Linked DNA regions of Homo sapiens. The protein of the gene in region 1 purifies or fractionates together with the protein of each later gene. This does not show direct contact. Each region holds a gene or a part of one and is shown in the gene's direction. Other genes may lie near its edges. The genes, in order: SLC41A3, LETM1 and ABCF1.

Region 1 (3,651 bases):
AGTTCTTCCGTCAGCTCCTCCTGAATCCATAAATTCCTTGGGAAAATGTTTTACCAGCAGTTGGGAGGCATAAGCCTACCACCTCATTCCTTACCTGAAACTGTGATTGACAAGCAAGGATGACAAGCAGGCATGTAGACATTTTACTGAACACGGGCCAGAGATGTATACTTTCTATCAAATAAAATCCAGGATCTAGAACATGGATTAAAAAAAACAGTGAGTGTGTGGGCCTGTGTCTGTGTGGGTAAACATTGGAAGGATATACACTAGACTTGCACTGATTATTTTGGAATAGTGAAATTGTCAGTGATTTTTAAAGTGTTATTTTATTTATTTATTTATTTATTTTTGAGACAGAGTCTTACTCTGTCCCCTAGGCTGGAGTGCAGTGGTGCGATTTCAGCTCACTGCAGCTTCCGCCTCCCAGGTTCAAGTGATTCTCCTGCGTCAGCCTCCTGAGTAACTGGGACTACAGGTGTGCATCACCACACCTGGCTAATTTTTTGTATTTTTTGATAGAGATGAGGTCTCACCATGTTGGCCAAGCTGGTCTCAAACTCCTAGCCTCAAGTGATCCACCTGCCTCTAGCTCCCAAAGTGCTGGTATTACAGGCATGAGCATCGTGCCCAGCCTCGTTATATTATTTTGTATTGTCTAAATTATATTTTTTATTAACACATGTCACTTTTGTAATTGGAAAAATAATCCAGTTATTTTCATTTTGGAAAGGAAAGGAGGCTGAGGTGGTTTATTGATTGTAGAATAGATGAAGAGATTGTGGGGCAGTCATACAGTTCAGTTTTCTACAGCAATAAAATAGATTCGGCAGCATGGCTGAATCTCAGAAATCTAATGTCAACTGAAAGAAACTGGACATGAAAAGAATCCGTGGAGTGTTACTTTGTTGATCTAAATCGCAAAGTAGGCCAAACTCAGCTGTAACACTTAGGGCTGCACACATTGTAAAACTAAAGAAAAAATAAAACAGATCGAGGAATGGTCATCCCCAGAGTGAGGCTAGTATCACCTCGGGTGGGGAGGAATGAGTTGTTATCAGAGAGGGGCTCAGAGTGGAGAGGCTGGTCATGCTTTGCTTCTTGAACTTAGTGGGAGTATAAGTGTGCTTGCTTTAATATTATCTCATAAATGATTCATAATTTTTTTATTGTGATATAAAGTTCATACCATAAAATTCACCCCTTTTAAATGTACAGTTCAGTAGAACAGAAAACTTATATTCACACAAAGACTTGCACATGAATAGTCATAGGAGTATTATTTATAATAGCCCCAAAGTGGAAATAACCCAAATGTCTGTCACTCATTAGTGGGTAAGCAAAATATGATATGTCCATGTAATTGAATATTACCCAGCTGTAAAAAGGAATGAAGTACTGATTCATGTAACAACATGGATGAAGCTTGACAACATTATGTTAGGTGGTATCTTACTGTGGTTTTGATTTGCATTTTTCTAACAATGAAGCTGAGCATCTTTTAATGTTAAGTGAAACCATTGTTTCATGTGCTTATTGGCCATTGTACATCTTTGGAGAAATGTCTGTTTAATTCCTTTGTCATTTAAATTGTCTTTTTATTGTTGAATTGTAAGTATTCTTTATATATTTGGGATACTAAACCCTCATTAGATATAATGATTGGCAAATACTTGCACATTTTGTGGATCGTCTTTACTTTCTTGAGAGTGTTCTTTGAAACACAACTTTCAAATTTTGATGAAATCCAATTTGTCAGTTTTTTCTTTGGTTGCTTGTACTTCAGATATCACATCTAAGAAACTGTTGCCTAATCCAAAGTCCCTGGGATTTACACCTGTATTTCATTCTAAGTGTTTTAGGTAGTTTTAGCTCTTATGTTTAACTCTTTAAGCCATTTTGAGTTAGTTTTTGTATGTGGTTTGAGGTAGGGGTTCAAATTCATTCTTTTGCATGTGATTATTCAGTTGTCCCAGCCCCGTTTATTGAAGACACTACTCTTTCCCCATCCAATGGTTTTTATACCTTTGTCAGAAATCCATTGGCCATAGATGCATGAATTTATTTATAGACTCTCAGTTCTGTTCTGTTAATCTATATTTCTATTCTTTGCCAATACCAAGTTTTACAATAAGTTTTGAAATTAGGAAGTCTGTGTTCTCCAACTTCATTCTTTTTTTTCAGGATTTTCTGTTCCCTTGCATTTCCATTTGCATTTTAGAATCAGCTTGTCATTTTCTCCAGAAAGAAAGAAAGAAGGAAGGGAGGGAGGGAGGGAGAAAGAAAAAAAAAAGACCACTGGAATTTGAATAGGGATTGTATTAAACCTGGAGATCAATGTTTTATAGTTTTCAGGGTACAAGTTTTGGACTTCTTTTGTTAAATTTGTTCTGAAGTTTTCTTCATTTCTTGCATTTCTATTGCAAATGCAATTGTTTTATTTATTTACTTTTAGATTATTCATTATTAGTGTATAAAAATAAAACTGGCCGGATACAGTGGCTCACAGCTGTAATCCTAGCACTTTGGGAGGCTGAGGCAGGAGGATCAGTTGAGCCCAGGAATTTGAGACCAGCCTGGGCAACATAGCAAGACCTCATTTCTACAAAAAATAAAAAACTATAGCCAAGCATGATAGCATATACCTGCAGTCCCAGCTGCTCAGGAGGCTGAGGTGGGAGGATCACCTGAGCTCAGGAGTTTGAGACCAGCCTGGGCAACATAGCAAGACCCTGTCTACAAAAAATAAAATACTAGCCAAGCATGGTGGAATATGCCTGTAGTCCCAGCTGCTCAGGAGGCTGAGGTGGGAGGATCACCTGAGCTCAGGAGTTTGAGACCAGCCTGGGCAACATAGCAAGACCCTGTCTACAAAAAATAAAATAGTAGCTGAGCATGGTGGAATATACCTGTAGCCCCAGCTACGCAGGAAGCTGAGGTGGGAGGATTACTTGAGCCTAGGAAGTTGAGGGTGCAGTGAGCTATGATCGTGCCACTGCACTCCTGCCTAGGTGACAGAGTGAGAGCCTGTCTCAAAACAACAAAAAAAAAACAACAACCAAACAACCCAAAAACCCAAACAACAACAAAACAAAAAAACTGACTTTCGTGTATTGACCTGCGTCCTCCAGTCCTACACCTTGCTGAACTTGTTTACTGGCTGTAATAGTTTGTGTGTATGTGGATCCCTTATGATTTTTTACGTATAAGATTATGTCGTCTGTAAACAGGGATAATTTTACTTCTTCCTTTTCAAGCTGGATACGTCTCATTTCTTTTCCTTGCTGAATTGTGCTGGCTAGAACCTCAGGTACAGTGTTTAATAGAATTGGCAAAAACAGGGATTCTTGTCTTGTTCCTAATCTTAGTGGGAAAACTTTCAGACTCTCGCTAAGTTTGTTAGCTTTGGGTTTCTCACAGATGCCCTTAATCAGGATGAGAACATTCCCTTCTATTCCTCTTATCATTATCAAATATCCTTCTTTGTCTGTGGTAAGAATTCTTGTCTTAATGTCTAGGAATAGAAGGGAATGTCCTCATCCTGACTAAGGGCATCTATGAGAAACCCAAAGCTAACTTTTTAAAGTGTTTTTATCGTGAAAGAGTGTTAGTTGTTGCCAAATGCTTTTTCTGTGTCTGTTGAGCTATGTT
Region 2 (3,651 bases), on another chromosome or scaffold:
GGCCTGAGCCGCCTGGGGACAACAGTGCCATTTGTTGAAACTGGGGAGGACTTGGGGAGGAGCAGAATGAGGAGGGGCGCTAGTTGAGAGTTCTTGGAGGTGTGGACTGTGCCGTGCCCATCAGACCTGTGGGGCGTGTGTATTCAAGTCAGGGAAGAGATTGCCTGGGGAGGAGGTGGAGGTCAGGTAGGGAGGCTCTCCCAGGAGTGGCAAGGGTGAAGCCAGGTGAAGAAAGGTTTGTTTGTTCTTTGACCTGATCCTGGCACCAGCACTGAGGGCTGAGAACCCTGGAAGTTTCCTGAATGATGGGAGTGTCTTTTTTCATTTGTTTGTATTTTGAGACAGGGTCTTGCTCTGTCACCCAGGCTGGAGTGCAGTAGCTTGATCATGGCTCACCACAGCCTCCAAGCGATCCTCCTGCCAGCTGATGTTTTAACATTTTTGTAGACAGGGTCTCTGTTGCTCAGGCTTAACTCCTGAGCTCAACAGCGATCCACCTGCCTTGGCCTCCCAAAGTGCTAGGATTACAGGCGTGAGTTTGGGAGTGTCTTCTGTTATTCGTTATCACTGCACCTGAGTTTATGCTGATGAGGTGACTCCAGGCAGGCCCTTAGATAGATTGAGGTGCTGGCCATGCTGTGATTAGAGGGTGGGAACTTCCTGCCCCTTCCAGGGAGGCGAGAGGGTTTGGAGATTTAGTTCAGTCCCCATGGCCAGTGGGCCAATACTGTAATCAGTCATGAAGCCTTGATGAGAACTTCTGGGTGAGGAGGCTGGTGAGGCTTCCCACTGGCGTCCACCTAGCTCCACAGGACAAAGGATCCTGTGCTCGGGACCTCCCTGGCCATGCTGTCTGGTTGTTCCTAGGTACCAGGTACCCTTTATAATAAACTGTGACAGTAAGTAGAGCCCATTGCTGACATCTGAGTCATTCTTGTGAATGATCAAAACCAAGGCGGTCATGGGAACCCTCAAATGTGTGGTCAGCTGAAGTTGGGTAAGCCTGGGCACATGGAGTGGGGGCAGTCTTGTGGGACTGAGCCCGTACCCTGTGAGGTCTGCACTAACTCTGGGTAGTGTCAGTATGGAATTAAATTGTTGGACTCCCAGTTGGAGAATTCGTTGGTGTTGGAAAAAAGAACAGAAGGGCTCCCAGCAGGGCCTGGGCACAGATGACACCTGTGCTCGTGAGGGACGTGGAGCAATGATCCCCATCACCCCGAACGGCCTTGACTGGGGGTTCCTTGGAGAGCTGGGGACAGAAGCCGTCAGAACAGGTTTTGGGGAGAGCCTAGTAAGGGAGCCAGTGGGACAGGCAGTGTTAGAGAGAAGGTAGGGTCACTGGGGGACAGATCAGGGAACTCTGGGAGACCTGCCAGCCTGCCTGCTTGCCGGGCGGAGCCCTTGAGGCACAGGAGCTGGCCGGGGCAGGGGTGGAGGGGCTGAAGGTGCCATGGTGTGGGGAGGATAGCGGAGAATGCGCTGGGCCCTCTTCATGTGGAGAAAGGTGGGGGCCAAAGCTAGTCTCAGCTGGAGTGAGAAGGGCCTTGGCATGCTCACGTGTGCTGTGCTTTGAATTTTAACTTAAAATGTAACTTGCTGTGTATGAGAACATAGCCAACATTTTCCCCTTAACCCAGCTCCCAGTTCACAGACCGGACTGTTACAAGCCCTAAATGTGGCACGTAGTAGGAATTTCCTTCCCCACAGAACCAGGAGAGTTGCCTCCTGTTAAATGAGGTGAAGTGACGTATCGGTCCACTAGGAGCAGGGTCAGTGCCTGCCCTCCCCATCTTGTTCGTCCTCTCACGGTGGCTCTCGTTGCCGGCTGGAGTGAGCTCCCCCCATCTTAAAGCTGCACTTGCTGCTCCCTGGCTGTTGACTCATTGCAACCCCACTGCTTGGAGGTTCAAGGTCACTGGGCATCTCAGGGTGCTACCTGCTGGCTCCCGGCACCGCCTAGCCTCTGCACAGCCTGGCCTGGCACCTCCGTGGGCTGGTGCCTCTGGCCCTGCTGCTCCTATTCCTGTCTTGTTCCCAGCATGAAGTTTGATCACAATGGGCTCTGAATGTCAGTAATACGAATGAACTCTGACTTTATGCTTATAGGAACTAGAGCAAGTTAGGGAAAGCATCAAAAACATGTTGAAATCCTAAAAATGTGCTGTACACTTATCACTGTTGTTTATACAAGAAATGGCTTACTCTTGGTGTTTTTGTGGTTCTTCTCTTTTTTTTTTTTTTTTTGAGTGCAATGGCGCGATCTCAGCTCACTGCAACCTCTGCCTCCCGGAGGGTTCAGGTGATTATCCTGCCTCAGCCTCCCGAGTAGCTGGGATTACAGGCACCTGCCATCATGTCCGGCTAATTTTTTTTTATTTTTGTGGAGATGGGGTTTCACCATGTGGGCCAGGCTGGTCTTGAACTCCTGACCTCAGGTGATCCACCCGCCTCAGCCTCCCAAAGTGCTGGGATTACAGGCGTGAGCCACCATGCCCGGCCTGTGGTTCTAGTAATTCTTTTTTTTTTTTTTTTTTTTTCTGAGACAGAGTCTTGCTCTGTCGCCCAGGCTGCAGTTCAGTGGTGCGATCTCAGCTCACTGCAAGCTCCGCCTCCCGGGTTCACGTCTGTGCTGGGATTACAGGCGTGAGCCACTGCGCCCGGTCCGGTTGTAGTAATTCTTACAGCTCTTGCCCCTTGGGATCATTGCTTGCTCTATAGGGCTGTCTGCATAGAGGTCATGTTTCCACCAGAGCCAGCTGAAGTGAGTGGGGATGGTGCCACCGGTAGGAGTGCTCCCTCCCTAGGGCTGGCCTGCTTGGCTTCCCTCTTGGGGTGTCTGGAGTCAGGATCTACTTGAGGCTTCCCATCTTTTTTTAGGACTACTTTGAGATACTGTTTTCATAACTGGGGCAGACCCTTCACTTAGCAGTGCTCTGAAACCTTCCAACACTCAGAACTGGCTTCCAGAAACTTACAGAGGTTTCTACAAAAGAGATCTGTACTCTTTCAGATTTTTTTTTTCTTTTTGAGACGGAGTTTCACTCTTGTTGCCCAGGCTGGAGTGCAATGGTGCGATCTCAGCTCACTGCAACCTTTGCCTCCCAGGTTCAAGCTATTCTCCTGACTCAGCCTCCCAAGTAGCTGGGTTTACAAGCATGTGCCACCATACCCGGCTAATTTTGTATTTTTAGTAGGGATGAGGTTTCACCGCTGGTCAAGCTGGTCTTGAACTCCTGGCCTCAGGTGATCCACTCGCCTTTGCCTCCCAAAGTGCTGGGATTACAGGCGTGAGCCACGGCGCCCCGCCTTCTTTCAGACTTAAAAGAAGGTTTCAGGCTGGGAGTGGTGGCTCACGCCTGTAATCCCAACACTTTGGGAGACCAATGCAGGAGGGTCGCTCGAGGCCAAAAGTTGGAGACCAGCCTAGGCAACAAAACGAAACCCCGTCTTTACAAAAATTAGCCTGGCCTGATGGTGCACACCTGTAGTCCCAGCTACTTGGGAGGCTGAGGCAAAAGGATCCCTTGAGCCCAGGAGTTCAAGGCTGCAGGGAGCCGTGACTGTACCACTGCATTCCAGCCTGGGCAAAGTCAAATAAATCAAAATGAACAAAAGGCTGAGCACGGTGGCTCATGCCTGTAATCCCAG
Region 3 (3,651 bases), on another chromosome or scaffold:
CAGGCGTGAGCCAGTGTGCCTGGCCACAAAAGAGATTTAAAGGAAGGAGAGATGGTATGGCTGTGTTAGTCCTTGGGGAGAAATTAGTGTCTGGGATGAGTCAGTCATCTGTGTTGATAAGGTGAGCTGATCAGGTTTTTCCTTCTTAGGTACTTCAGTAGATCCTTCCTCCTAATGCCTTTAGGATTAAACTCCTTGGAATAGCATATAAAGCCTTTTATTATTAATCCTGCACAATTTTTCAACTCTCACACTAGTCACCCAATACTGGGCTCAGATTTTTTTTCTTTAACTTTTTTGTTTGTTTTTTGTGGTTTGTTTTTTGGGGAGGAGGAGGGCCCCAAACTTTGAAATGTGTTCTGGATGGAGGATGCAGATTAAGCAAAGACAGACATAAGCGTGCCTGGGACTTCATAAAGGAACAGAAAGAAGCCAGTATCGAGACCAGAGGTGTGGGTAGGGAAACAGAAAAGATAGGGTAGGGCCATTTTAGTCTGTGAAGCCTTTAATTATTGGAATTGTCTCTCGTTAACTCTAGTTTTTTGGAGAAGTAGATGCACCATAAAACTTTCCTGAATAAATGATTACTTTGAAATACATGGAATTCTAGTCTGAGAATATTTTAATGTAGTAGATGGCGGATACCATTGACTTTTTTTCTTTTTTTTTTTTTTTTTTGAGACAGTCTCGCTGTGTCACCCAGGCTGGAGTGCAGTGGCGCGATCTTGGCTCACTGCAACCTCCACCTCCCAGGTACAAGCGATTCTCCTGCCTCAGCTTCCCAAGTAGCTGGGACTACATGCGTGCTCTGCCACGCCCAGCTAATTTTTGTATTTTTAGTAGAGATGGGGTTTCACCATGTTGGCCAAGCTGGTCTCAATCTCCTGACCTTGTGATCCACCCACCTTGGCCTCCCAATGTGCTGAGATTACAGGCCTGAGCCGCCGCACCCGACCAATTTTTTTTTTTTTAATATTAAATACTGAAATGCTTAAGGGTAGAATTAGATAGCAGTGAATGGAAGGGATGTTTTGGAAGAGAAGATAATAAATAGGCCTAAGCCTGAAGGGAAATCATGAGGCTGCCTCCAGTAGGGGAGGGAGTTGGACATGGTCCTCTACCTTCAGGGAAACAAGGATGGAGAGGGGGAGAGCTAGAATCTGTTGAATCTGTTTTGGCTTTACTGGGAACACAGGCTAAACAGTCTCTCAGGTTACTCTCTAGAATGAAAGCACACAGACAGGTAAATATGACACAATGTGATTTGTGCTATAATATTCAAGCAGAACAAGTAAGGCATAGACTGAGGTGTTCATTTGCTTACCAGATAACTCTATTTACATGGCCTATAGGTTTTACAAACAACGTGTCCCCCTGGCCAGGCACAGTGGCTCAGGCCTATAATTCCAACAGTTTGGGAAGCTGAGGCAGGAGAATTGCTTGAGGCCAGAGGTTCAGGATTAGCCTGAGCAACATAGTGAGACCTCCTCTCTAAAAATTATTATTTTTTTAATTAGGCAGGCATGGTGGCGCTTGCCTGTAGTCCTAGCTACTCAGGAGGCTAAAGTGGGAGGATCACCTAAGCCTAGGAATTTAAGGTTACAGTGAGTTATGATCATGCCACTGCATTCCAGCCTGGGTGACAGAGCAAGACCCTGTCTCTTAAAAAAAAAAAAAAAAAAAGGAGGGTGTGTGTGTGTTGTATACATGTGTGTGTATCTACACATATCTCCCAAATTGAATTTATAATATCTTCTTCCTTCCTATAAGACCTTCTCTTCCACTGCCTCCTTAATTAATAAATGGTACCACTTAGCCCAGCTAATTTTGCCAGCTAAAAACACAGGAGTCATCTCTGAGTGCTCTTTTTTTTTTTTTTTTTTTTTTTTTTTTTGAGATAGAGTCTTGCTCTGTCACCCAGGCTGCAGTACAATAGCGTGATCTCAGCTCACTGCAACCTCCGCCTCCTGGGTTCAAGCAATTCTCCTGTCTTAGCCTCCTGAGTAGCTGGGATTACAGGCGCCCGCCACTATGCCTGGCTAATTTTTTGTATTTTTAGTAGAGACTGGGTTTCACCATGTTCACCAGACTAGTCTTGAACTCCTGACCTCAAGTGATCCGCCTGCCTCTGCCTCACAAAGTGCCGGGATTACAGGCATGAGCCACCGCGCCCGGCCGGGTGCTCTTTATTCCCCACCTCTAGCCCCATCCTATGAATTCTTCTTTATGTCCGCTTGTCACCACCACCCAGACTACTCTGACAGCCTCCCCAGTGGATTTCCCACTATGCTTATTCCCTCCGATTCTTGCTGTACTCTGAAGCCAGAGTGAAACTTTAAAGTGTGAAAGTGATCATACCAATAAAGTCCCCATTCCTTAACCTTGCTACAAGGCCCTCACTCCAGCCTTACCTTGCACCATTCTCCCCTCAGTCTGTAAGCTTAGCCATACCAAACCTTTCCCTGTCTCTCAGTGTGTGTGCTTTCTCACAGCTGGGCCTGTGCACAGCACTGGAATTACACCATGTGTCTGACTAACTTCTCATACTCCTCATTACTTCAGTTATTTGCTTAAATGCCATCTTCTTAGAGAGGCCGCCACCAGAGATGAAGCCAGCCTCTCCCCCACCACCAAGTAGGCTTTACCTTTTCTTTTGGAACCTTCAGTACACCTGGAATTACCTATTTAAAAATCTCTCTTCCTATAGCCTGCAAGCTCCAGAGGAGACCACATTTGTCTTGTTCATTGCTATGATCCCCTACGCTAGCACAATATCTGACACATGGTAGCTGTTTAGTAGATACTTAGTGGATGAATGAATAGAGATGGGAATGATTATTTCTGCAGGAGTTGTGAGACAGTACAAATATTTAAGGAGTGATAGTTAAGCTAGAAAAATAATAAAATAGGATAGAGGCTACAGAGATCTTTGCAGGGGGGATCAGACTGCTTTGGAATTTGCAGATAAGCATTCACGATGTCCGCTTAACTTTCTAGACAAAGTGGTGAAGAAAGGGAAGAAGGACAAGAAGATCAAAAAAACGGTGAGAAAATGAGGGTTGAGGATAAGAAATGACTATGGATGTTTCCAAGCTAAATAAATAGCCATGTGAAGGAGGTGGGAGGTCCAAGGGAGGAGAAAAGATCTTGTCAAGAGAGGAGATAGGCAGGGCACGGTGGCTTACACCTGTAATCCCAGCGCTTAGGGAGGCAGAGGTGGGAGGATAGCTTAAGCCCAGGAATTTGAGACCTGCACACTCCATTCTCCACAAAAAGAAAAAAAAGAGAGAGACAGGAGGTAAGGTGAGGGTGGAGTGGAGGGCCAGTGGGCCAATGTGTGGCAGAGCACAGCCTGCTTGGATTGCTCTTGGAAACATGTTTACCTGTAGCTTAACTCCCTTTATAGTTCTTTGAAGAGCTGGCAGTAGAAGATAAACAGGCTGGGGAAGAAGAGAAAGTGCTCAAGGAGAAGGAGCAGCAGCAGCAGCAACAGCAACAGCAGGTACAAGTGCCACAGGGCCCACCAATCCTGGGAGGCATCTGGGTTCCACCAACCCCTTTCCAGCCCATGTTGCTCCATTCAGCTGATGGGGAACCCTCTGTGAGGCAGAAATACAGCAGGGGCCTGGGCTTCATTTTCTCACTGTTCTT

The links.
Region 2: the proteins of SLC41A3 (region 1) and LETM1 purify together in Homo sapiens (affinity purification with mass spectrometry; one large-scale study listed by BioGRID and IntAct). This does not show direct contact.
Region 3: the proteins of SLC41A3 (region 1) and ABCF1 purify together in Homo sapiens (affinity purification with mass spectrometry; one large-scale study listed by BioGRID and IntAct). This does not show direct contact.

What each region holds. Positions count from the first base shown.
Region 1 is NC_000003.12:126,074,082-126,077,732, reverse strand, and holds part of SLC41A3 (solute carrier family 41 member 3), read left to right. Parts: intron 1-3,651. UniProt on the Homo sapiens protein: Na(+)/Mg(2+) ion exchanger that acts as a predominant Mg(2+) efflux system at the mitochondrial inner membrane.
Region 2 is NC_000004.12:1,849,534-1,853,184, reverse strand, and holds part of LETM1 (mitochondrial proton/calcium exchanger protein precursor), read left to right. Parts: intron 1-3,651. UniProt on the Homo sapiens protein: Plays an important role in maintenance of mitochondrial morphology and in mediating either calcium or potassium/proton antiport. Mediates proton-dependent calcium efflux from mitochondrion.
Region 3 is NC_000006.12:30,574,412-30,578,062, forward strand, and holds part of ABCF1 (ATP-binding cassette sub-family F member 1), read left to right. Parts: intron 1-2,997; coding exon 2,998-3,044; intron 3,045-3,406; coding exon 3,407-3,502; intron 3,503-3,651. UniProt on the Homo sapiens protein: Isoform 2 is required for efficient Cap- and IRES-mediated mRNA translation initiation. Isoform 2 is not involved in the ribosome biogenesis.